Linked DNA regions of Homo sapiens: region 2 is linked to region 1. Evidence: fine-mapped expression QTL. Tissue or cell type: nasal epithelium. Region 1 holds a variant in brackets; the other region holds the start of a gene. All regions are shown on one strand. Distances are between the middles of the regions.

Evidence for each region. PIP is the estimated chance that this variant, and not a neighbour inherited with it, causes the effect.
Region 2: it holds the start of C1orf198, and the variant in region 1 is fine-mapped to the expression of C1orf198 in nasal epithelium (TOPMed, PIP above 0.99).

What each region holds. Positions count from the first base shown.
Region 1 is chr1:230,838,158-230,840,840 of GRCh38, forward strand. C1orf198 (chromosome 1 open reading frame 198) reads right to left here. Exons shown (of 4, transcript NM_032800.3): 4 at 1-1,751. The coding sequence ends at 1,695. Among named protein-coding and RNA genes, the nearest start is that of C1orf198, 29 kb to the right of the region's middle. The variant A/G (reference allele first, on the strand shown) is at 1,551.
Region 2 is chr1:230,866,971-230,869,653 of GRCh38, forward strand. It overlaps C1orf198 (chromosome 1 open reading frame 198), which reads right to left and starts at 1,551. Exons shown (of 4, transcript NM_032800.3): 1 at 1,210-1,551. The coding sequence starts at 1,542. RefSeq lists a silencer at 1,480-1,699 and an enhancer at 1,523-2,114.

The DNA.
Region 1 (2,683 bases):
TGCCCAGGCTGTGCCAACTGGGATTTCTAAGCTCCTTTTTCCCTCACCACCATGCTGAAACCTTTTTTTGCCTCACATATATCAACTATACTTAAATGGTACAGAAAGAACCAATATTTGAAAAGTTACAGTAAATCACTGAAGCAGAAAGATAAAACTATACCCCAAGGATCCAAATGAGGTTTAGGGACATAAAACAATTGGCAAGAACCAAATCAAAAGTTGGCTATGCCACAGCTTTGGCAGAAACTTTCCTGGAGATGATGAGGGGTTGAGGTGAGTTGCTATGTGCTTTATTTTGGAGCCAGATAAAATATTCTGGAAATCATTTCAGAAGGTCCTATGAAACAGGCATTTAAAAAAAAAAAAAAAAGAAGAAGACACACTTTGGTATTGAAACCGAGCGCTCACTGGCAGGTGTCGCAAAGATTAAGGCTTCAGGTGAGAACGCAGTGATGGCAACATGGAGATGGCGCCATACCGGGCTTGAGGCTCTGCTCAGACGCCTCCTGCAGGCTCACACGGCTCAGGGGCCACTGGGCAGGACAGCCTCTGAGTGCAGCAGCTTCCCTAGGGGAGGTGGACCACGTTGTACCACTGGGCAGCCTTGGTGTCTGCACCAGCTCCAAGAGATACTGCTGCTCTGACACCACGCAGGTCTCCATGGGCACTGCTGAGTTGACCGCAAACTCCACTCTTCCACTTCTGGTGGTGGTCAGGGCTGGGGAAGGTCCGTCATGACGCAACCTGGCTAGCCCTTGGGATAAAGAATGCCCACTGCTCCCATCAGTCCCATGCTGGAAGACTCTAACACAACTAAGCAGAAGAGCCCTGACCTCCAGCCACATCTGCCGTCTGCCCTGACTCCTGTAGGTGCCCAGTCCGGGGAACAACCAACAGGTCACATAAGCAACAAGAACTTCCAAGAGGAAATGGATATAAAACCAAGGAAAGTGGTAGCCCCATTGTTGATAATCTAGATACAAAATAATGAAAAGCTAGTACAAAACTCTTTAAACATGCAACTCTTTTTAAACAACAATCCATACTCTGAATATGTATCAGAGCAGGTTAAAGACTACACTGCTACATACCCGCAGTCTGTTCCCTGGAAATGGCGTGAGGGTGGAGGCTGGCACATGATGTGAGAGACATGGCTTCTGCCAGAGAAGCCCCGGACAGCTGCGAGCGCTGGCTGAGAACGTCGCTGGGGGCCAGTCTTTCCGGGGTCACAGCCAGCATGCTGATGTCATGGCTGATAACATCACCCTCAATCACCCACCAAAAGGAACCCATACGGTAAAAAGCGGAGGGGGGAGGGGGAATAATGGAGAAGGAGATGGAAATCACTTATATGATTTTTGTGACATGGTTGAAACACATCCTTTGAGGAGGGGGAAAGTTGGGTGGAGCTGGGAACAGAAGTTTTATTTACAAGATCTCCTGAATTATTAACAGACCTTAAAAATTCCAAATGGAAAACTTCTGTTATCAAATCACTGAAAATAGCATATATATCTGGTTCTACCAAAAAAGAAAAAAATCTGGCA[A/G]TATTGACCAGTTTCCAAATGATTAAGAAAAGAGTGTCAAGAAACCAGTAAAATACATAGGAAAAGGTGGCCCTTTTTATCCTCCTCCACCACACCACTTTGGAAAACATTTTAGGGTTCTTCATTGTATTTTTCTAATACATTTTACCAATTGTCCAGAAAATCAAATCCCGTCTTCAAGACGACATTACTTGAGCTGACCTGTAGAAGGGACAAAAACATGGAAGTAAGACGAGCCTCTTTTTTTCAGTTACGTATAATCTAAAAACAGCATCTCATTTAAAACGACCCAGATAAAAGAGCCTACTTCTGTCTCAGAGGTTCCCTGACCTCAATTTATCTCAGTGCTTGAAATCAGAAGATTAAATACAGTTCAATGCAATCTATACTCTGCCAGCATCCAACACTAACCCCTCTTCAACCCCAGGCATGTCTGTGAGCAGCTTACAGACCTTACAGAGAAAAGAACAATGTCTCTGTATTTTTCTATAAATCTTTTCTGTTTCTGAATGACAGCCATGTTTAAATTTATTCATCCTAAATAAGAGAACAAATGATAAAGATATTCCTTCAAATATAAAACAAACATCACACACAAACACAACAAAAAAGAACTTGTAAAGTTGAGAAAGTAAACATAGTGTGGAAAGAATGTGAAGCTTATTTCTTTCAGATCTTGTGAAAGGTTATGAAGTGATTTTCCCAAACTCTAAGCTCAGCCTCCGGGGCTCAAGCGATCCTCTTGCCTCGGCCTCCCACGTAGCTGGGACTACAGGCATGCACCAGGCGTGCACCACAAGGCCTGGTTTAATGTCATTCTTCTTTCAGGGGAAAGGGCTTAACTGACAGGTCCCCTCTTGTGAGCATGGGCTGTCTCAAGCTGCTGCTGTTTTCATAAAACTTCTGACTGGCTTCCACTCAGCAGCCTGTTTCTGATGTCCCTTTCCTCCAGCCTAACACCGGCAGGCATTTACCTGGTGCGCCAAGGTCTTCTTGAGCAAAGAAACCTTGACTCTCCACCCTCCAAGCAGCCGGCCAGCAGAAAATGCATACATGGCGGCAAGAGCAGGCAATGGGCTAATGGGCTTGCCCTTGACACCTGTCTCAGGCCCAGTTTGGCTACATGTGAGACT
Region 2 (2,683 bases), 29 kb after region 1:
TCCCTCACATTAAAGTGGGTTTATGACCATGAACACTTCGTATTAATAAATGTCTCAGCACACCCAAGCCTGAAAATCTGATCTAAACCTCCTTAACTTGAATTCCATCCACAATCCACAACTTCCTCGGAAAAAATCTCTCCCAGCTTCTCCTTCCTCTAGCCCAAGAAACAGCCTTAACAGCGAGCGATTTCATTCCTACACTCTTTGCTCAGCTTGACTTTGCTCCTCACGGCAAAAGTTGAGTTTGAAACGCCAAAGAGTCACAGTGCAAATTCTAATGGCACCAAACAGGCTTCGGTTAAACACATTTCTAAGAAAAAGAAGACCAAGTTTCTGAACCCTACAGAAGATTCAGGCGTTTGTGACTAAGTGTGGGTCATCCCTGAGCTTTTTCTGGAACAGATTCAGCGTTTCTACCTTCACAAATGACTGTCCCTCTAGCAGTCTGGACAGTGTCTAGATCTGAGACCTAAACATGCCCTGTTATGTGGCCAAGACTTACTGGAGCTCATTTAAACTTATCGTCCCTTAGTTTTTTGGTGGAAAACAGGGCCACCATGCTCACCCTTAAAACATACGCTGGGCATTGTGCTCACTTGGAAAACATCTTAGGGTGATGGATGGGTTTCCCTCCTTATCTTGGAAGACACCTTTTCTTCCTTGTTACCTGGCTTGGCAATTTTACTTTCCCCATACATCTCATCACAAGTATTCATGTTAGTATATATCATTTGCTCAGTCCCTTCACGGGCAGGCACGGGGTGGCGTTATTACCCCCGTTTTACACAGTGGAAACTGAGGCTCTAAGAAGTTAATTGACCCACCGCCATACAGGTAGTAAGTAGCAGAGCTGGATTAAAACCCAGGCTTGTCTGGTTTAAAATTGCTTGTTGTTTCCACTTTGGTCAGCCTCGCTTACGACAGCTCCGGGAGAAGTCTCTGGAGTCCGTGCGAGCCGGCGGATCAGGTCTAGATGGAGGTTCTTTAACGACCCACCTCTCGGCGATCTCTTAACCAACTCCCCCAGCGGAGCCCCCACCCCCCGAACTTCGGCTCTGGGGCTCCCCTCCCACCCACTGCCATTCCTGCCTTTTCTTTTCCAGCCCCTACCAGCTGGGGCGGCCTCACGCCGGCAGGTGCCCACCGGGCCGGGGCGCCTCGGGGCGCCGGGAGGGGAAGAGGGTCCGCGGCCAGGCCCGCACCTACCTCGTCCCCGAAGCGCACCACCTTCTGGCCCGTGGGCCCGCGCAAGCCGGGGAAGCGCGTGAGCTCCTCCGAGTCCCCGGGGTCTCGGGGCGCCGGGGCGCGCGGCCCCACCAGGCACCGGTCGATGATCTCGTCCTGCTGCGCGGGCGGCAGCCGCGCCCACTCGGGCCCGTACTTCTCGCGGATCTTCTCCTTGTCCTGCATGATCTTCCTGGCCATGGGGCTCAGCGACGAGAAGTAAGTGAAGCGCTTTCGCTCCCGGTCGTCCAGAGGCCGGTTCCCGCTCATGACCGCCGAGCGCGAAGCCGCGATCGCCGCCGCCATGGACGCCATGCCCGGCCTGCCCGCCGCTCCCGGCCCGCGCCCCGCCCCTCGCTGTGCCCGCCCTCGCCCCGCCCCGCGCCACCCGGAGCCCCGCCCCCTCCGGGAACCCCGCCCTGCACCGCCGCGTACCCGGGTCTCCAAGCCAACCCAGCTCCCCAAGCCCCGGGACCCCGGCCCTCCGTGGCCCCCTCCCCGGGAGCTCCTCCCTCCGGGCCCCCCCCCGCCACCCCCTCGCGGACCCCACGAGTCCCCCTTTACGCCTCCATAGTGGATTACCGCGGTGCCCGCAGGTTTCGGGCTCCCCTTACCCGGCTCAGGTGGTAGCCGGCGTGTCCCTGAGTCCGCGCCCGGCGCTCTGAGAGGGTGGCCGTGGTTAATTCCCGGTAGTGACCGCCATAGCGCCACGTGGCCACTGCTTGACAAAGGAAACTTTTTTCAACCTCCAGTGAGCCTAAGAAAGCCCCAGCATTTCAGGCCAAGCCGCTGGCTGCCTGGCTTCTGTTTTTACTCCTTTCCTTCTGTCCCTTTCTGGGACGAGCCACACCTTCTCTGCTTTCTCTGGGCCCGTCCAGGACGCTGGGCCCGGGGCCTGGCGCGGTGAGCTGCAGATAGCCGGGGGCGCAGGGCAGCCCGGAGGCTGGAGGGCGACCTGGAAGGCTGGACCGGTTCGGGGCATCTGGTGCTCAAGGAAAGTCAGCTCCCGCCGCCCCTCGGGGCCAGGTGGGTGCATGAAGTACCCGGTGGCCCAGGTGCCTTTCCCCAACCCAAGGAGCTCAGAACTCTTGGCAGTTCGACGTTTGCAAACAAACCAAAGAGGAGCAGAAAGTTTTCAGACTCAGAGGCGACATCCCAACAGGTAGGGGGCCAGGGTTTGTAATTTTGAGGTGTGTCCCAGACAGACCACAAAATTAAAATTATAGCGAGCCCCCACTTCCCCCAAGCCCCTCTCTCCATCTGACTGATTTTAACAAGACTAACAGGACTCAGGTGAGAATTGTGTCCACTCGTAAAATAAAAAAACAAAAACAAAAACCAGCATTTCAGCTGTTATCCAGGGTCTTTGCCTGGATAGTTCTGAACACAAAAGTAGAAATAACTTGCAAAGTCCTATTTTAAATGTGAGATGGCCTCATCTTCCGGCCCAGAAATC